3 linked regions of the Homo sapiens genome follow. The protein of the gene in region 2 interacts with the protein of the main gene of each other region in a pairwise test. Each region holds a gene or a part of one and is shown on either strand. Other genes may lie near its edges.

Region 1 (7,351 bases), on a different chromosome or scaffold from region 2:
AACTAAGTCCCATGGTGCTAGGCATGTCATGCTCAAAAGAGCCCCTCCCAAAGCAGTCTGAAGCACATTCTCACTGCCAGCCATCAGTAATCTTTTTTTTTTTTTTTTTTGAGACGGAGTCTTGCTCTGTCACTAAGGCTGGAGGGCAGTGGCACGATCCTCTCACTGCAACCTCCCCATCCCAGGTTCAAGTGATTCTCCTGCCTCAGCCTCCTGAGTAGCTAGGATTACAGGCGTGCACCACCACGCCCTGCTAATTTTTGTATTTTTAGTAAGACAGGGTTTCACCATGTTGGTCAGGCTGGTCTCGAACTCCTGACCTCGTGATCCACCCGCCTTGGCCTCCCAAAGTGCTGGGATTACATGTGTGAGCCACTGCGCCTGGTCCCATTAATCAGTATTTTTAATTTTCACAATTATACAGGGGAATTGTTAAATTAACTGAATCCATTATAAAAAATTAATTTATAGTTTAAAAAAATTCATTGGTGAAAACAGTAAAAATAACACTAATTTAAATGATAATCCAGTATTACAGTTCTTTTAGAATTTGTCTAGCAGGTTTTCCAGTTTTCATCGGAAACTCTACTATCTCAACTCTCCCAAAAATTAAATACATAAATTAATAAGTCATCCATCAGGGTCAAAAGCAAAAGAATCAAGTCAGCAAACAAAACATAAAAGAAGCAAATATATGCCTTTCTGTTATTAAACCCAACTCTGCCAATTTAGTTTCAACAAAAGACACTGTCTATTGCATTAAACCAATATTAGTACTTTTTTTTTTTTTTTTTGAAATAAAGTCTTGCTCTTTTCGTCCAGGCTGGAGTGCAGTGATGTGATTTCAGCTCACTGAAACCTCCGTCTCCTGAGTTCAAGCGATTCTCCTGCCTCAGCCTCCTGCATAGCACCAGTCACCATGGCCAGCTAATTTTTGTATTTTTTTTTTTTAGTAGAAATGGCGTTTCGCCATGTTGGCCAGGCTGGTCTCAAACTCCTGACCTCAGGGGATCGGCCTGTCTTGGCCTTCCAAAGTGCTGGGATTACAGGCGTGAGCCACCAAACCCAGCCAATGTTAGTACTTTTAATGTTACTGGTTTTATAATTCTGTATGTAACAGAAAAAGCATATTTGTGGGTTTTCTGCAAATTAATTGAGATCTTTAGCTATAAATAAACTAAAAGATTATGAAGTTTATACTTCGCTCTATTTTTGTACACAAATGAAGTTAACATCAAAACAATTAAACACTGGGGGTTAATGTCAATAACTTTTTTGTTTCTTCTAAAAGGCCAAGGTATTAGGAGTTAAAATGAAAACAGAGAGAAAGGTAAGCTCCCTGAAAGCAGAAATCTGTCTTGTTCTCTGTGGTATGCCTAGCCCCCAGCTCAATATTTGCTGAATAAAGGAAACATATTAACGAGATAGCAAAACCGACGAAATTATCACCTCATTATCAACTAAAAGAGAAGAATCCTGCGGGAAAAGTTATATAGGACAGACACATCTTGGCTGGGAGGCAAGAGAAAAAAGTAAACTAAAATATACTGGCTGCAGGGCATCTTCCTAAATGCTATATGGTGACCCTGTGAAGACATCGTCCCACTTCACAGATGAGAAAAACAGCTTCAGAGAAACTATGAATCTTACCAAAGGTCACTCGTCTAACTTCCCTAACCCCTCCTGTCACCTGCCCCTTCCCTTCCATCCCTCCGGTTGATGACTTTATCTTCATTTAGGAAACTGAAGAGTGGGCTGGAACTCTCTCACTCATCTTCCCACCACCAATCTCTAAACTCATCTGAATCTGCAACTGTATTCTCTGTCCTCGCTCCTGTTACAACTGAAGAAGCCTTGCTGTACGTACCAAAGGTCAATCCATCCATTGGTTGCCCTTGATCCCATCCATCCTCTGTACCTTCATAAAGGCTCCATCTGTCTATGGCTTTAGCTTTAGGACCCTAGCCTTTTCTAATTCCTCAGTTTCGGCTCCCCAGATGTAGTTTGCCCCAAAACATCTAGTGACTGGTGTTTAAGACATAGTACAGGACGCAATGGCTCACGCCTGTAATCCCAACACTTTGGGAGGCCGAGGGAAGAGGACTGCTTGAGCCCAGAAGTTCGAGACCAGCCTGGGCAATACAGTGAGACCCCCGTCTCTACAAAAAATTTAAAAATGAGTCGAGCTTGGTGGCGCCCGCCTGTAGTCCCAGCTACTCGGGAGGCTGAGGTGGGAGGACTGCTTGAGCCCAGGAGGTGGAGGCTGCAGTGAGCCGAGATCGTGCCACTGCACTCCAGCCCGGGAAACAGAGCGAGGCCCTGCCTCAAAAAAGAGTACAGGATGAACGGTCAAAGAACACAGTTAAAAGCACAGACGCTAACTACTATGTCACAGAGTGGCGTGAAGACCAAATAAAATAATGTCAATAAAGAGCTGAGCATCGCATCTAGCACATAGTGAGCACCCAATAAACGTCAGCCATCATCGTCGTCATCGCAGCATCTGCTGCTGTTGTTGTTAAACATGTTTAATTGAGGCTGAAAAAACAAACAAAAAACAATCAAGCAGAGATGACCGCCCCGGGCTTCACTGACAGCTCTGGGAAAGTTTCTAAAGTTTCTCGAGGGCTCTCAAGCCGAGGCCACGGCAGCGTGTACCCTGGGCACCGGTGTCTGCGACAGAGAGAGACAGATTCACACGAACATACTTTCGGTCCATCAACCACCTTTCTCCTTCCTCCTTCCTCCTTCCGCTTCCCTCAATCCCAAACTGAGGTCCCAGGGACCTCCCCGAGCTCACCAAGGTCCTTGTCGTTGATCCCCAAGTGATTGTCCAGCTCAGTGCAAACCTTTGACACCAAAGACAGGTACTCGAGTTTGGCAAGTTCTTCCGCGGGGCCTGGCTCCGACCCGATTAAGGCTCCCGCCATGGCTACAGCCACAGCCATGGCTATAGCTTGCCCAGAACCTCCTTCCTCACAGCCGGCGCTCAGAGCTACTCCGGCCGGGTTCCAGCTTTCACTTCCGGGTCAGCGCGCGTCCCCTTTGTTTACGGTAAATTGAAAATTTGAGGAACGAATCAAGTCCCAACAGGATGGATCATAGAGATCAAACAGGAAGTGCTTAAGGAAGGGACAACTAGAGTGGGTTACTCTGCACGCCGATCTGCGCCCTCTACAGGCGAGAAAAATCTCCGCCCGCCCTCAGGCCTGGAAACGTTCACTCAGCGCGCTCCCGCCCTGGGTCGGCAGAGGGCGACCCCGGCCTGCACAAGAGGCGCCGGGAGGCAACCGCAAAACAGCCTGCGCCTGCGCTTTAGAACACTTGAAAAAGGAATCTTAATGCACGTCTGGAAAAAGACAAACTTGCTTTACTGTGGATCCGCAAATTCCCGGCCTCACTTCTTTGTGGTTCCTGTCGTCCGATCTCAAGTGACCCTTGACAAGCCAGTAGGCAGTAGATTGCCTTCTCTTGTTTTACACACGAAGAAACTGGCACTTCCACTGCCAGCTGGCTGCTTGGGCAAATCAATCTCTGGGGCCTTAGTTTTCTCATCTGTAAACTAGAATAATGTTGCTCTACCCTAAATGGAATAACTGCAAGGAGTGTGACACAGAGTAGGCACACCGCAAATGACAGTTACTGTTAATATCACAAGGCTAGGCCGGGTGCAGTGGCTCACGCCTGTAATGCCAGCACTTTGGGAGGCCGAGGCTGGTGGATCACTTGAGGTCAGGAGTTCCAGACCAGCCTGGCCAACGTGGCGAAACTCCATCTCTACTAAAAATAGAAAACTTAGCCGGGCGTGGTGGTGGTGGGCGCCTGTAGTCCCAGCTACTCGGGAGGCTGAGGCACAAGAATCGCTTGAACCCAGGAGGCAGAGGTTGGAGTGACCTGAGTTCACACCACTACACTCCAGCATGGGCGACAGAGTGAGACTTTGTCTCAAAAAAAAAAAAAAAAAAATTCAAGGCTGAGATGATGGTCACAGAACTGGCCTCTGGTCTGTCAAGCACAGATCCCCTTAGTCTGGGAACCCACAGAGCCAGCTGCCTCCACTCTTGTGAAAACCTGCTTTTCAATCCCCAGTTTTCCTGTGTCCTCTCAGAACTTATTCCCCCAGGGGCTGGGCACTGTGGCTCACCCCTGTAATCCCAGCACTTTGGGAGGCCGAGACGGGCGGATCACTTGAGGTCAGGAGTTCAAGACCACTCTGGCCAACATGGTGAAACCTCGTCTGTACTAAAAATACAAAAATTAGCTGGGCGTGATGGTATGTGCCTGTAGTCCCAGCTACTAGGGAGGCTGAGGCGGGAGAATTGCTTGAACCTGGGAGGTGGATGTTGCAGTGAGCTGAGATCTCGCCACTGCACTCTAGCCTGTGCGACAGAGTGAGACTCCGTCTCAAACAAACAAAACACACACACAAAAACAACAACAAACCTTATTCCCCCAAATATCAGCTGTGCTGTAAGTCCAAGGTCATAAGCTCAGGTCTCCCAACTTCTGCTTCAGGTCTTTTTTACCTTTGTGGCAACCTTAATGTGGGATGGGGATTTTTCCCACACTCCAGTGCTCTGTGTGATGAGTAAGGAAACAGAAGCACCCTAAAGTGAATGGCTCTCCAATCAATCGGAAGGAGGAAATCAGTCTCCCACTTTTCACTTTGGCAACATTTTTACACTGGTGTACCTTTGGACTCTGTTTCTTCAACATCTCATCATGGACTGAAAAATGACAGGCAGAGAAAAACCCAGCCATTGTTCTCACTGTCTCCAGAAGCTCCAGGTTTCCAGGTTCCTAAGGAATCACTACTAAACCCTCTGAGTTCTTCCTACCCCTCCCCATTTCGCTTCCTCTTTCTCCCCATGAATAGAATGGAAAACTCTGCACTTGATCCAATGTGCTCAATTTGCCAGCTTGGAGTTACGATTTCAAGGGCTTATTCTATCTGATGTTCATTCTCTGTGCTTCTTTCTCTTTAAAAATTAATATTACTATTCTGCTTTCCTCCAATATTTAACCGGAAGGAGGAACAGATAGGGAGTTTGTTTTGTTTTCAAAGCTCTGTCAGAATAGGGGCTATGGAACCATAACATGTAGCAGCAGTAGTAGCAATAAATACTAGAATTAATAAATACTAAATGTTAGAATTGTTTGGGAATTATTGAACATATATATCAATAGTAAATATTAACAGCAAAACATTACATTTTATTTAGATATGCCATTAACTGCACATTTTAAGAAGTGACAGTTTTTCTGCAATATACATATTTCTTGCAACACCAAAAATTTCTTTGAAGCCAAAGGAAAACAAATAGTTATGTAGATACAGATAACTTGACAGCCCAAACACAGATGCACATGGAATCCTCCTACTCTTCCTCCCCATAAGAGACCGTGAATCGAACGCAGTGCAAAAGTAAATGTTTCCGAACTGTCCTCTGGATAGAATATTTTTCAACATAATATCAGATATAATTAATTTTCATTATTAGGTCGGGTGCAGTGGCTCACACCTGTAATCCCAGCACTTTGGGAGGCTGAAGCAGGCAGATCGCCTGAGGTCAGGAGTTCGAGACCAGCCCGGCCAACATGGTGAAACCCCGACTCTACTAAAACTACAAAAATTAGTCGGGCGTGGTGGCATACACTTGTAGTCCCAGCTATTCGGGAGGCTGAGTCAGGAGAATTGCTTGAACCCAGGAGGCGGAGGTTGCAGTGAGCCAAGATCACGCCAATGTACTCTAGCCTGGGCGACAGTGATACTCTGTTTCAAAAAATAAAATAATAATAATAAATTTCCATTATTATTGTATGACTTTCCTTGGACAGCCTCCATGTGGCCCTTTAATAGCCCAGTAAATAATTTACCTCTACATATAACTTATGCTCATACTACCCATATCACCACTCATGATGGATAAGAAATTATTTCCTGATACCAAACTTGTAGTAACAGGGATGTTACTTTTCTGCCTGTTCCTAGACTTATAGATGTGTTTAACCCTACCCCCGATTTCCATGTTATTTCTGCTCTGTCCCAGAGACTGGTCCCAGCTGCTGGAATTTGGGAAAGAACTTGGGGGTTGGGATGAGGTAGAAAGCAGAGAGAAAGTACTGAACCTCTTAGCAACATCAGGTTGAGTTGGTAAGGGAGAAGAAATTATCTAAGTACGTGTAGCTGAAAGACAGCATCCTTAGGGAAGTTTGTGAGAAAAATCATAGGGCTTTCTGTCAAAACAGTGTTGCCACAACCCAGACAACCCTGGCCTTTTCTGCTGGGGTAAAATGGATCTTAGGGGAGACATCTCTGCTCTAGGAGGCAAAATCAGAATGGTTTGCTTCTAAGCATATGACTACCACTCAACTGTTACTGTCATTCATGCAGGGAGACTTCAGAAAGAGTGGCCCCTTCTTCCCTGCTCCACTTGGGCCCTGACCCAACCAGAGAGCCTGGGAGCCCCCAGAGAAAGTAAAATTCCTTATTTTTCACTGTTTGACTTTTCCCCAGAATTCATCTCCAAATTTGGACCAACTTATTAAATTTGTATTAAACTTCAACCTTGTGACCAGGCACTGTGGCAGGTTCTAAAAAGGATAGGAGGTCTGAAAGTGGAAAAACATCAAGGAAGAACTAGAATACTCTGAATGCCATTCTCAGCCAAGGGGTCTCCTGGCAGAGCTGTGTTTATAACTTAGATCTCTGCTGCCTAAACATGAGGGCAGGTGATTGGAAGACAGAAAAAAAAAAAAAAAAGCTGGTCTGTTTACCGTCATCTGAGGGCAGGCAGATTGGGGTTGGAGGGCAAGTCTACTTCACAGGGCAGTTTATCCTGTTGCAATCTGTTATTTGTTTGCCTTATTTTCTAATACCCAAGCGCAGCCTCATTTTTGCGCAAAACATTCCTGACCTACAGTTCCCTCTCTTTTTAGGCCATCAACCTGCCATCAGCAATAACAGATGCTTTAGATTCTAAATTCTCCAAGGCTTTATAGTATTAGGCAAAAAAAAAAAAAAAAAAATGTTCTTCCTAAGCAGATTTTTTTTTTGGTATAGTCAAGTTTCCCATTTCTCTTGCATTTTAAGACTCTTCAAAATGTCAGGCAAAAACAAACACAAAGCCAGGCACCCAGACACCATTATGATATGAACTTGTCAAGAAAATGGTATTCCCCCATCTCGGCCTCTCCACCTTCTGTGGAAATGGCAAGGAATTTTTTCATATTTATTTATCAGTTTTTCATCTTTTTTCTTTTTTTCTTTTTTCTTTTCTTTTTTTTTTTTTTTTTTTTTTTTTTTTTTGAGATGGTGTCTTGCTCTGTTGCCCAGGCTAGAGTGCAGTGG
Region 2 (7,026 bases):
GAACTTCCTTCAAGGTTCTACTTTACCATAAAACCAAAAGAACCAAGTCTAGGCTGGGCATGGTGGCTCACGCCTGTAATCTCAGCACTTTTGGAGGCTGAGGCAGGCAGGTCACCTGAGGTCAGGAGTTTAAGACCAGCCTGGCCAACGTGGTGAAACCTCGTCTCTGCTAAAAATACAAAAATTAGCTGGGTGTGGTGGTGGGCACCCGTAATCCCAGCTACTTGGGAGGCTGAGGCAGGAGAATCATTTGAACCCAGGAGGTGGAGGTTGCAGTGAGCTGAGATTGCGCCACTGTACTCCAGCCTGGGAGACAAGAGTGAAACTAGGTCTCAAAAAAAAAAAAAAAAAAAAAAGAACCAAGTCTAAATCTGTAATTGAACAGCAGTTTTTATCAGTGGATTTAACTTCCAAGTCTCCCTCTGTCACCCAGGCTGGAGTGCAGTGGCATAATCTCGGCTTATTGCAACCTCCGCCTCCCAGGTTCAACCGATTCTCCTGCCTCAGCCTCCTATTTCATGTACTGAATAGTTCTTTCTTTCCCCATTGATCTGACATGCTATCTCTTTCATACACTGAAGTTCCATACGTGTATGGTTATCTTTGGGCTCTGAATTTTATTTTATTTTTTTTTGAGATAGTGTTTTGCTCTTGTTGCCCAGACTAGAGTACAATGGCGAGGTCTCAGCTCACTACAACCTCCACCTCATGGGTTCAAGCGATTCTCCTGCCTCAGCCTCCCAAGTAGCTGGGACTACAGGCACTAGCCACCACGCCCAGCTAATTTTTGTATTTTTGGTAGAGATGGGGTTTCACCATGTTGGCCAGGCTGGTCTTGAACTCCTGACCTCAGGTGATCCACCCGCCTCAGCCTCCCAAAGTGCTGGGATTACAGGCATGAGCCACCACGCCCGGCCTGAATTTTATTCCACTGAACAATTCAGTTGTTCTCCTATGCTTTCTAAAGTGCTGTAAGCTTCATAATAAGTCCTCCTATTTGTAGGGGAAATCTTACCTTCCTGCTCTTCTTTTTCAGGAGTGACTTGGCTATTCTTGTCCTTTTAGTCTAGTATATAAATTTTAGAACTGGCTTATTAAGTTTCATGAAAAACTGTGTTCTGATTTTGATTGGGACTGTATTGAATATAAAGATCAATTTGGGAAGAAATGACAACTTTACAATATTGCCTTCCTATCCGTGAACCTGGTATCTCTCCAGCTATTTAAGTTTTCTTTAATCTTACCTTCTTGCTCTTCTTCTTCAGAAGTGACCTGGCTATTCTTGTCCTTTTAGTGTAATATATAAATTTTAGAACCAGCTTAATAAGTCTCATAAACAACTGTGTTGTGATTTTGATTGGAACTATATTGAAGATATGGACTCTTAATGTCTTACATTTTTCCCCATAGAACCTTGGGCATCTTTTGTTAAGATTTATTCTTAAGTCTCTCATATTCTGACACTGTTATAAACGTTCAAGGTTCTAGGTTTCTGTTGTTAGTAAATAGAAATGCAGTTCATTTTTATTGGAACTGTATTGAATACACAATCTCTTAATAATGTTTTATAGTTTTCCTCACAGAGCCCTGGGCATCTTTTGTTAAGATTTATTCTGAAGTCCTTCATATTCTCTGATACTATTACAAATGTTTTCTTCTTATTTAGTTACATTTTCTAGTTGTCTGTTGCTGGTAAATAGAAATGCAATGGATTTTTGTGTACTAACCTTATATCCAACCAGTTGTTAAACCCTCCTCTCATTTATAATTTATCTGGAGATTCTTTGGGATTTTCTATGTAAACAATCAAATCATTCACCATGTCATTCACAAAAAAATGACATTTTTTTTTTAAGACGGAGTTTCACTCTTGTCACCCAGGCTGGAGTGCAATGGCACGATCTTGGCTCACTGTAACCTCCTCCTGGATTCAGGTGATTCTCCTGCCTCAGCCTCCTGAGGAGCTGGGACTACAGGTGTCCGCCACCATGCCCAGCTAATTTTTGTATTTTTGGTAAAGACAGGGTTTCACCATGTTGGCCAGGCTGGTCTTGAACTCCTGACCTCAGGTGATCCACCCAACTATGCCTCCCAAAGTGCTGGGATTACAGGCGTGAGCCACCACGCCTGGCTAAAAAATGACATTGTTATATCGCCCTTTCCAATCCTTATTATTATTATTACTGTTTTTTCAGGCTGAGTTTTGCTCTCCAGGCTGGCATGCAGTGGTGTGATCTTGGCTCATTGCAACCTCCGCCTCCTGGGTTCATGCGATTCTCCTGCTTCAGCCTCCTGAGTAGCTGGGATTACAGGTGTGTACCACCACGTCTGGCTAATTTTTGTGTTTTTAGTAGAGAAGGGTTTCGCCATGTTGCCCAGGCTAGTCTTGAACTCCTGGACTCAAGTGATCTGCCTGCCTTGGCCTCCCAAAGTGCTGGGATTACAGGCATGAGCCACCGTGCCCAGCCTTCCTTTCCAATCCTTGTGTCTCTAATTTCTTTTTCTTGCCTTACTGTGTGGGTCCTCCAATGCAATGCTTCAAATATTGGTCCTCAGTATTACAAGATTCTGGAGGTGCTTCAGGGTTTCTGCAAATATTTGCCTTCAGTGTCATTTAAAAATAGTTATCTACTTAAAAAAAAAGTTTATCAAGTTTTAAAGAATCCAAAATTCAATTTGATCTAAGTACTGCTGCCCTATTTGCTCATTCTCCTGGTTCTTCCTGGAACTTTTCTCTTTCCTAATTTTATATTCATTTCCCATGCTGAATCCAGTGTCTTTTTAAAATTTATTTATTTATTCATTTATTTATTAGCCAGGATATATTCTCAGCTGACCAATGTCTTTTATCATCTTTTTCTGTTATTCAGTCTCAGAAATCTGGGTCCATAAAAAACTGAAGACAAACTTGTAACCAGGAAACACTGTCTTGTGAAAATATTTTCCTAACTGCCACATTCCTCATGGGGCAGTGATAAATAGCTGAATTTAACTATATCCTCCAGTGGATAAAATATCTGTAAGCAAATACCAACTAGGAAAGGACATTAGGAAGATTGATTCTTTGAAGTCAGAGATATAGCTGAGTTTGAGGCTGAGTTGCATATATACTTGGAATTGCAGAAAACCATGTTATACTAACAACACTAATATCAAACCAATATTTATACTCTACTTTTCATAAGAAACAGTCACTTAATGAAAATCAATTACCAAAATATAATTCTGGTAGTAAAAAAGAAGAAAAAGATCTAATCATGGAAACTGAGCTTAATGCCAACAACATACCTGCTACCACTCATTACATAACCTGAGCATTCAAATGATGCAATTTCTTCACTTGTCAAGCCAATTTCACCTCTTCGTGGGATACGTTTTCCAGCTTTTACATATTCAGCCATAGCTGCACCTTCACCAGGTAACAGAGCATGGCCATAGCTACAAAGTAATTCAGAATTCAGAAAAGGTCCATTAAATCATCTTAATATTAAAAGCTTATAATCTAAAGAGAGCACCAAAAATCCCCACATTTTCTCTCAAACAAGAGTAGGAATAACAGTGCTCAGCAGTAGTGTGCTAGGAAGCTCAATGTGAATTGCTTTATCCTAATTAGTGTATTAAACATTGCATTGCACTATGACCTATACAACTAACCCAGAAATGCAGAAATATTTTGAAAGAAAAGAACTGCTGTGAGTATAGATTCACAGTTTACAATTATGGATTAATTTATCCCTACAGGTATTGTCATTACTGGTTCTGGCTCCAGCTGATTCCCTTTCCCTTTTTCCCTTAAAAAATCCAAAGTATGCCAGGCACAGTGGCTCACGCCTACAATCTGAACACTTTGGGAGGCTGAGGCGGGAGGATCACCTGAGATCAGGAGCTTGAGAGCAGCCTGGCCAACATAGCGAAACCCCGTCTCTACTAAAAATACAAAATTAGCCGGGCATGGTGGTGCATGCTTGTAGTCCCAGCTACTCAGGAGGCTGAGGCAGGAGAATCACTTGAACCTGGGAGGCAGAGGTTGCAGTGAGCCGAGATCGTGTCACTGCACTCCAGCCTGGGCGACAGAGTAAGGCTTTGTCTCAAAAAACAAAACAAAACAAAACAAAAAAAAAAAACAAAGTAGGCTGGGTGCAGTGGCTGACGCCTGTAATCTCAGCATTTTTGGAGGTTGAGGCGGGCAGATCACTTGAGATCAGGAGTTCGAGACCATACTGGCCAACATGGCGAAACCCCAGCTCTACTAAAAATACAAAAATTAGTCCGGGCGTGGCGGCAGGCGCCTGTAATCCTGGCTACTTGGGAGGCTGAGGCAGGAGAATCACTTGAATCTGGGAGGTGGAGGTTGCAGTGAGCCAAGATCATGCCACTGCACTCCAGCCTGGGCAACAGAGTGAAACTCAATCACACCACTGTGCTTCAGCCTGGGAGACAGAGTGAGACTCCATCTCAAAAAAACAAAACAAAACAAACAAAAAAAAAATTCTAGACCAGGTGCGGTGGCTCACGCCTGTAATCCCAGCACTTTGGGAGGCTGAGGCAGGTGGATCATGAGGTCAGGAATTTGAGACCAGCCTGACCAACATGGTAAAACCGTATCTCTACTGAAAATACAAAAAAAAATTAGCTGAGTGTGGTGGCGCGTGCCTGTAATCCCAGTTACTCAGGAGGCTGAGGCAGGAGAATCGCTTGAACCTGGGAGGCAGAGGTTGCAGTGAGCCAAGATCACGCCACTAAACTCCAGCCTGGGCAACAGAGCGAGACTCCGTCTCACAAAAAGAAAAAAAAATTCTGCTGGTAAAAAAAGAAAAAAGAGAAAAAAAGGAATAAAAAATTCTGTGAGGATCAAAGAGAAACAGAAATCACACCTACTTGTGGAGGGGAAGTATTGGGAATCAGCATATGCATCTCCTTTTGAAAAGGGCTTCGAAGGATAGTAAGGATTTTAACAGGAAGAAACTGGCGATAGGGAAGAAAACAGAGGGCAGGGAAAAGAAGGGAAGGCATACTGGATGAAGAAATAAGCTGAACATGGCATAAAAGTTGCAAAGTGCACATTAAGCCCAGGGAATATTTAGTAGTCCAGCTCAGCTGGAACCTGGAGTAGAAATAAGGGAATAGAGTCAGATAAGCTTGGCAAGGTAAGTTAGAACCAGACTTTTTGGTAGGTACTTTAGATATTATAAACACACTGCTGCTTACTTCAAAGGTTTATCATCTTGAGAGGTAAGTGTTTTTGGAGCCTCTGGGCCAATTAAATCTGATGGTTCTTCAGCCTCTGCATGAAAGATATTAAGAAACACATTCACATTCTGACTAATTGGTTACTTTAATGTTTCATCTGTTCTGAGTTAGTCTATCAGAAGAACCTACTTGTTCGATCCTTCCAGGGATTTTCCAGAAACTCTTCTTGGGATTCTTTAGAGCTTGAATCACTGGACTCTTTTCTGCTCTTCTTAGACCTCTTTTTCTTATATTTCTTCCTATAGGGATTTTAATTTGATACAAATTCACTTAATCTTCCTATGTTAGAGGGCATCTTAATTTTTCTTTTCTTTTTAAATTTTGAACTGGTGACTATACATCTTAATTTTTCAAGGCAAAGAAAGGTGACAATAAAATGATCTGAATTCCCAGCTTATTCAAACTTACAAGATAATTTTACTTAAAAAAATCTGCTTCTAACTGAACCTGGGAAACAGAGCAAGACCCCGTCTCTATTAAAAAAAAAAAAAAGTAGCTGGGTGTGATGGCACACATCTGTAGTCTAAGCTATTCAGGAGGCTGAGGCGGGAGGATCACTTGAGCCCAGGAGTTCGAGGCTGCAATGAGCTATGATTAGCCCACTGCACTCCAGTCTGGGCAACAGAGCGAGACACTGCCTCTTAAGAATTTTTTTAAAAAGTATTCTAACTTATTTAACCAAATCATCTTTTGCTATAAAAATTATCACTAAAGGAGGCTGGGTGTAGTGTTTCACCCCTGTAATCCCAGCACATTGGAAGACTGAGGCGGGTGGGTCACTTGAGCCCAGGGGTTAGAAACTAGCCCTGGGCAACATGACGAAACCGTGTCTCTACAAAAAATACAAAAATTAGCCAGGTGTGGTGGCACACGCCTGTAGTCCCAGGTATGGGGAAAGTGGGGGCAGAGGTGGGAGGATGGCTTGATCCTGGAAGGTTGAGGTTGTAGTGAGCTGTGATCGTGCCACTGCATTCCAGCCTGGGTGACAGGGTGAGACACGGTCTCAAAAAAAAAAAAATTCACTAAAGGGAACAATGAAATACAGTTCTGATGTTGTAGAAAGACAACAGAAATAAAACAGCCTAAAAAGTCCCAACAATTTGAACATTATGAATAATTTTATGTGTAATGGATTAAAATATGTCAAATATGTTTAAATCCTTGGGTTAATAATACTTTTTAAAAATCCAATTCATTATTTGAAAAGTCATTAAAACAAAAAAAATCAAGCAATTATCCTGCTCTTACAATATAAACTATATTTCAGGGTATCTAAATAGTTGATGAGGGTAAGTTTCTCTTATAGAATCATTCTGCCTAATAAATGAAGGATAAAGCCAGGATTAGACTATCACCATTTTACAACCCCTAATGAAATAATGGATCGAGATAATGACCATCAATGGCTGTTAATATGACAAAAAGTGACAACCAGACATTATTTGCCTCCTGACAGTAAACAGCACCACTTATGAAGTATTCTTGCCCCAACTCAAATCTGAGCCTTCTCAGGCCTCTAGACCTATTAATCTATTGGAAATACAGAGGACAGAACATGCCAAAGAATACCATAAGAATACGGTCACTGCAATTTAGGGACATTATTTGGATCCTGATTGGAATAAACTACAGAAAAAACTGCTGAGAATAGAGGAATTATTATTAAATGTTTTAGGCACAATAATAGCATTCTGGTTATGGGTTTTTGTTTTTTTTTTAAATATAGAGACAGGATCTCGCTATGTTGCCCAGGCTGGTATTGAACTCCTGGGCTCA
Region 3 (7,026 bases), on a different chromosome or scaffold from region 2:
ACATTTGAAATAGACCAAGTATAGCAAGCTTGGTTTCTCTACGCGGGGGGGGGCTGATTTCAGTTTCCAGCACGAGGTCAGCTCTTACTTGTTCTGTCAGACTCTATTGCCACCAAACTGCAAGGCTTCTGTCTGTCTTTATTAAACTACCAGCAGTCCCCAGAATTCCAGTGAGTAAAACTATGACCTCAGCCTTTCAGGTGGGAATAGTTTCCTTCTCTCGGAGAGCATCCAAATCCTCCTATGTTGTTCCTGGATAAAAATCTAAGGATAAAGACAGTTTCTTGCAGACAAGTGTACCCTTGATGTCACTTGTTGCACTATTTATGTCGTCCCCCCCCCACCACCCCCATTTCTTCCCACAGACTAGTCTAGTTCTGCTGTTGCCATGGGGACCAGGCTTAGGTTTCCTTCACAGTGTCCTGATTTGGTCTAAGACCGCAAGACCTCTCCCAGCCTCACCCTAAATTGGTTCTGAGCTGGTCTCAAAGGGGCCCGCCCTGACCTTAAAGGTATATGGGCAAAGGTGGTATTCAACCAACTCTTAAGTATTTCCGGGTTAGACCTCAGTGGGTAAGTAGTGAATACCCAAGTCCCTCTGACCGCTCTTCCGACCCAGCATGAGGCTTGCCTGGCTGCACTAGCTTCCTGCTTTTAGGTGGACCAGAAGTTCAAGGGTGTGAATGAGAGTATAGCTAAGCCTCGAAGCGAAGCTGGGATGTAGCTGGCACCTGCATGGCCATGGGCTGGGCCGACATAGTCTCAGAACTGATCTGGGCACTGTGGCTGATTGGCAAGTGTTAAGTAGGCCAGGTCTATTCACAGTTTGCCAATTCCCAGCCTTTTTCCTGAGGAAAGTGTTAGTACAGTTCAGTATTGCTATTTAAAGATTTCTCCTCTACCTGCTGCCACTTCTGTTTGTTCAGGAACAAGGAATTGGTTATTTATGCTTCGCAATCATGTATGCTGTAGTTAGAGGAACAGTGCTAACAAAACTCCGCATCCCCACCCCAGGCCCTCTATTTAGCATATGTCCCTGTGGCTTCTCCCAGTCCCCAGCACGCTGGCATGCACTGCCCAAGTCCCTGCCATGTGCATGCTGAGACAGCGGCGCCTGCCTCTGCTTCTGTGTCCAGTGTGTGGTGGGGCAAATTGCTCTGGTTCTCTCCACTGCCATTTCCATGTGCCTGCTACTCCCTAACTTCAGCCTGGCCCTGCCCTCACTTCTGATGGAGGAGCTGGAGTCCAGGCAAGTAAGCTGGAGAGTGAGGGCGCCAATGGTCTGGTGTGGCTGGGTGGGTTGAGGGTGGGTTTCAGAGTTTGGGAAAGCAGTGTAGAGCTGGAGGGTGCAGGGCTGAACTTTTGTGTGTCATGATGAGGCCAGAGTGCAGAGCTGGACATCTGAGCCCTGGCACTCGGGACGTGGCCGTAGTGTCACATCACTCTGTGCCACATCACTGACTTAGTATGTAAGTACAACATTCATTGCCAAAGACAACACAGTTCTGCAAAGGAGACACTAATTTGTACCTTTCCAGAAAGAAATATGGTCTACTTTTACAAAAGGGGCTTAATTCTTTGAAAGAAAAGCATGCTAAATACAAAAAAAAAATCCCATCTGGTGGGGAGGAGGTGGTGCTCTCTGCCCCTGTTGTATGAATGGGGAAACAAAGCACAGAGGGCTGTAGCAGACTGCCCAAACCAAGGTTTCACGTAACGCTGCCTCGTTTCAGTGCTTCAAGTTCGAGCCTACATAGTTATAAAATGCTGCACCTCAAAGTTAAAAGAAGTCCAGGCTATTTTGTCTCAGTATGGCCTGGTTTGGGTTCTCCTGCAGCACAGCCTGCCACAGCTTGAGGTTTGAGCCTTATGCCCAGTACCACTTTTGACAGCTGCAGAAGCAGAGGGCTCATTAGTGCTGGCTCAGGCAGTAGCAGCAGTGGGTGCTCACATATTCACAGGACTTGAAAATACCTGAAATAGTGTAACTGGGTTTACAGAGGTAAAACTCTTATTTAATCTGGTACAAGGAGCATTTTCTCATGGCACTTGGTGCCAATGGATCTGCGATGGGAAGCATTTGAGTCAAAGGTCTTCTTCTAGGTATTGCTGGTACTCCACCATTGAACTTGGGTACCTGCAAAAAAAGCTTTCAATTTTTTTCCTGGCTTCTGTAAGAGGGGACTTTTCCTTCACCCTCAATTCTAATTCTGACTTCACAATGGGGAACTGAGAGTTTTCTTCAATGAGCCATTAACAAATTGCCTCCAGTACTGACCACAATGTCAACCTGGATGTAGAATTATCAACTGTCTCAGCCTCAAGCCAGTCCTCTCGGTTGACAGATGGAGAAACTGAGGTCCAGAGAGAAGTGAGTTGTCTACAACTGCCTAGGGAGTACCCAACAGACAAGCACTCCAGCTCCTGGTCTGGTGCATTCAAATGGCCTGTCCTGTTGGGATGTTCAGACTGGAAAGCAGGAAACTGACTCTGGGCTGGGCATGGTGGCTCACACCTGTAGTCCCAGCACTTTGGGAGGCCGAGGCAGGTGGATCACTTGAGGTCAGGAGTTTGAGACCAGCCCGGCCAACATGGGGAAACCCCGTCTCTACTAAAAATACAAAAATTAGCTAGGTGTGGTGGCGGGCGCCAGTAATTCCAGCTGTTTGGGAGGATGAGGCAGGAGAATCGCTTGAACCCAGGAGGGAGAGGTTGCAGTGAGCTGAGATCATTCCACTGCACTCCAGCCTGGGTGACAGAGTGAGTCTCAAAAAAAAAAAAAAAAGAAGAAAAAAGAAAGAAAGAAAAGAAAAGAAAAGAAACTGACTCTGCAGTATGTGTGCAGAGAGCCCTCAATAAGTGCCAGTTAGAGGTATGCAGGATTCTCTACTTTCTTTGTTTATATCTGCTGAAAGACTTTGTTCCACATTTCTCTCTGGTTGGTTTGGTTCCAAAGAAAATGGAAGATGAATAATTTAGTAATTTTATTTGCTCAGTAGGTTCCTTTCGATGCCACTCTTTGTTGGGATAAGTAACGGTACTCATAAGTGCAAGATTAAGCTTACCCTTCTCTGAGGCTTATCTGTGGGCTTCCCATAGCAGTTGTCCTGTTCCTTAGAACCAAATAGATTTGGGGGACCCCCAGCTGAAATTTCTCCATGCCTCCCTTTCCAAAGAGGAGAAAACCTTAATAGCCACCCACCATCTGACATCCAGATTACAATATTATTGACATTTCTTTCCCTGTTGAGTGGATATAGGAAGAAACAAACTCAGTTTCTTCCTGCTATACTGTCACAACATACTTCTATGACCAAATGTATGGGGCTTTTTCCCACACACCAAGCAAGCAAGCAGTTCTGCAGAGGGCACACAGTGTCCTCTAACTCAGTTTGATTCTGATACTATCTACCTGGAAACAGCATCAGATCCCACAGTTTGAGGGCTCAATCCCACAAGACTTTCCCCCATTTCAGACACCAATCACAAGTAATAGTTTGTCACCTACACCTCTGACCAAGTGGCTATAAATTGGTGTTCCCACTACCCTCTCCTTGGACTCAACTGATTTGCTAGAGCAACTGACAGAACTCAGGAAAACACCTACATTTACTGGTTTATTTTAAAGGATATTATAAGGGATACCAATGAACACCAGATGGAAGAGATGCATAGGGCAGGGTCTGTGGGAAGGGTGGCAGAGCTCCCATGCCCTCCCAACGTGCACCACCCTCCAGGAACCTCTAAATGTTCAGCTGCCCGGCAGCTCCCCACACCCAGTCCTTTTGAGTTTTTAATGGAGGCTTTATTATGTAGGCATGATTGATTACATCATTGGCCACTGGTGATTAGTTTAACTTTTAGCCCCTCATCTCCTGGAGGTTGGGGCGTGGGACTGAAAAATCCTATCCTCTAATCATACCTTGGTCTGTCCTGTGAGCAGCCCCCATCCCGAAGCTTCCAGGGGTTCCCCAACCACTAATCATCTAATAAGCATACAAAAAACACTCTTACCACTCTGGAGATCTCAAGGGTTTGGGGAGCTATATGTCAGGAAACAGGGATGAAGACCAAACATGTATTTCACTGTATCACACCTGTTCTCACCCCTCCCCAGATCTTCTCTCAATTAATATGAGACAAAAAAATGAGTCTGACTTCTTGACCAAAATATCAGTTCTGTCCTTAGCAGCTTTATGGAGGACAGATTTAGTTTAAATTCCTTAGGCATTATGCCCCTGTGGCTCCACTCAATCAGAAATAGGGTCAACGGCAAGGTCAGGGCCTCCAATCTGGGCAAGAGGGAGGCAGCCACGGTATCCACAAGTGTAATTCTCTGAGTGCTGGTTGCTGGGAGGGGCACACCCTGGGCCAGCAAGTCACTTGGCCAAGGGTGGCCAACTGTGAGGTAGCACTGCCCTTTACTCCCTAAAAAAATGTGAATCTCTTTGGAGCAAACTCCTCTTCAGAAATTTGAGCACTTGTTTTCTGAGCAAGGGAATCAGCTAATGCTTTTGACTCCCCATCCATCTTCCTGCATCCTCGTCCCACCTCTCCTGCCCCCACTCACCTGGCTCTGTCTTTACCCACACCATGGTTTTGGTACAAGAACACCCTTTTCCCCATAAGCTACATTGGTCCAGGCCATAAAAATTCATTAGTTCCCTTTCTTCAGGGGCCTTCTGAAATGCTCCCTGGAGAACTCTTTATTCACTTCTTTGCACAAGAATCACATATGTGTGAACACTGGTATTGGCCTTCTAACTCAGTTTCTTCAAACCAGGGTCCTGGTCTGGTTGCCCCTGTCTCCTCCCACTGAGTTTTATCTCCACATAAGTATTGCTCACCAAGAACAGAGCTGTTGACACCACTGGGCCTCAAGCATGCTGAATGCATTGCTGCCAACTGCTCTGCCTTAAGAAGGTTGGAAACTGATGAGGGTGCCACAAATTGTTCACCTCAGCCCTTCTGGGCTGGTTGGAGGAGGCCCTCTCATGAATCAGTCAGCAAATGTTTGACCCCTACCAGGTGGTCCTGGTAATATGTGGTATGAATCATGGTCCTAGATGTCTGCCATAGCAAATAAAAAAGGAAGACAGGGAAAGAAGCTGTCGCCTACAGAGTGGCTTGATGACAGCTGCCTCACTAATTTAAAAAGCCATGTGTAGTGCTTCCTATTTCTCACTATGTTTGGGTGAGTGGGAGAGGGAGAAAGATTATATGGGCTTCGTTGTGACACTGTTCTTAGCCAGTGGGTCAATAGATGAGTTTTGGTTTTGTTTTTTAGAAGACAGGATGAGAAGAGAGTGCCCCCTTCCACCTCCAACATGGCATGCCATGCTAGGTGCTGAAGGAGTTCTCTAAGCAGGGATGGAGCACCGTGCGTGTGTGTGTGTATATGTGCACGTGTGTGTGTACGTGTGTGTGTGTGGCAGGTCTAGAGGGTCGATGGCTCTTTCCTGCCTCTTGCCCTTGGTATGGGTACCTTAGTGATGCATCATGGCCCTCCCTTAGGACACACAGCTTCGCAGTGCCAGTGAACCCACTCCTTTTGGCTCCTCCTCTGGAATGATAAGCCCAGATGCCCATGCTGCCCGTGAAGGGCTTCTTCTTGAACTGAATGTGGAGGGCATCTCTGGTCCCGGCCATCTGCCAGTGACTCTCATGTGCATTCATGTCCCTCTCTTCTCTCTGTCCTGTCTTCTCTGCCGCTGCCTCTTCTCTGCAGGTACACTTGCTGAAGGACCAGTTGGCTGCTGAGGCTGCGGCGCGGCTGGAGGCCCAGGCTCGCGTGCATCAGCTTTTGCTGCAGAACAAGGACATGCTCCAGCACATCTCCCTGCTGGTCAAGCAGGTGCAAGAGCTGGAACTGAAGCTGTCAGGACAGAACGCCAGTAAGCCAGTGCCCTGCCCAGCCCTGCTTCCTCTGTGAAGGCTCTGGAAAGAGTGTCACTTTCCTTAAGTTTTTGGTGGTGCTTTCTTGGACCCCTGACCTACCCCTATATTCCAGCAGAAAACATAGGCAGCTTTGTTTTCCCATTAGTATACTTAATGAATTACAGAATCACATGCCCAAAGGAGATCTCGGGTGCCTTCTAATCCAGGCCCAGGGCTGGACTTTGAATGTCCCCGGAGTCACTGCTATGTGCTCATCCAGTCTCTATTTGATAGGGGCTCAGGTACTCTGTGTTCTAGGGCAGCCCATTTCTTTCTCAGAGAGCTTTTGCAATCAACAAACAGTATACTTGGCACCTATTGGGTGTCATGGTCTCTGTGAGCTCTGTGGGAGACAGCAGATTGTTTCTTAGTTTACTACTCTGCACTATGTATTTCAAGACTCTGTCACACAGAAAAAGCTGGGAGCAGTATATCTGTTCAGTGGATAAGGCAGTGGAATCTGGCTGCACTGCTCTGCTGGGCAATAGCAGAGGTTGCCTGGCCCCTGCTTGAGAAGCTGTCTCTACACTCAGTACCCCTGGGCTGGGCTGGGCAGCTGTAGATCGCAACACATTTTCACGCCTTCCTCTTGAGCCTTTCCGTGGGTTGTTTGCATGCTCAGAGTGTGTGTGGGCTGTGGACCAGCAAATAGCCATTGATCACATATTGTGCCAGAAACTGTGATAGAATTTTTTGCCTGTGAGCTCATTTAATCCCTGTAGTTCTGCTGCAGAAAAATGGGATGCCATTTTACAGATGAGGTAACAGACTCAGGGAGGTTAAGTAACTAGCTCAAGGTTATAGGCCTAGCAAGGAGCAGAGCCAAGATTCAAACCTAGATCTGATTGCAAAATTTTGTTCCAACTATACCAGTGGTTCCCCCAAACCATCCCATGAGCTCTTTTAAAAATGCGTCTTTCCTACTGAGATCCTACATCGTTCTGTCTAGGGCTGGTCTGGGAGCCTGTATTTTTAAAGTAGCCCAGAGGTGTGGATTGGAAACCAGTGCCCTTCACCACTCTGGAAGCCTCTCTGGATTTTCCAGATTGTTCATTGAAACTCTGCTCTATCCTAATTAATGCTTATTTA

Evidence for each region. The genes of interacting proteins can lie anywhere in the genome.
Region 1: the proteins of NKAP (region 2) and DHX8 interact in binary tests that used the Homo sapiens proteins (3 or more experiments, as listed by UniProt).
Region 3: the proteins of NKAP (region 2) and NOS1AP interact in binary tests that used the Homo sapiens proteins (3 or more experiments, as listed by UniProt).

The regions. Positions count from the first base shown.
Region 1 is NC_000017.11:43,479,635-43,486,985, reverse strand, and holds the start of DHX8 (ATP-dependent RNA helicase DHX8), read right to left. Parts: upstream 3,012-7,351; 5' UTR 2,949-3,011; coding exon 2,801-2,948; intron 589-2,800; exon of another isoform or gene 528-588; intron 1-527.
Region 2 is NC_000023.11:119,926,728-119,933,753, forward strand, and holds part of NKAP (NF-kappa-B-activating protein), read right to left. Parts: intron 5,490-7,026; coding exon 5,380-5,489; intron 5,285-5,379; coding exon 5,209-5,284; intron 3,439-5,208; coding exon 3,289-3,438; intron 1-3,288. UniProt on the Homo sapiens protein: Acts as a transcriptional repressor. Plays a role as a transcriptional corepressor of the Notch-mediated signaling required for T-cell development. Also involved in the TNF and IL-1 induced NF-kappa-B activation.
Region 3 is NC_000001.11:162,359,676-162,366,701, forward strand, and holds part of NOS1AP (carboxyl-terminal PDZ ligand of neuronal nitric oxide synthase protein), read left to right. Parts: intron 1-3,307; exon of another isoform or gene 3,308-5,674; coding exon of another isoform or gene 5,675-5,728; coding exon 5,729-5,894; intron 5,895-7,026. UniProt on the Homo sapiens protein: Adapter protein involved in neuronal nitric-oxide (NO) synthesis regulation via its association with nNOS/NOS1. The complex formed with NOS1 and synapsins is necessary for specific NO and synapsin functions at a presynaptic level.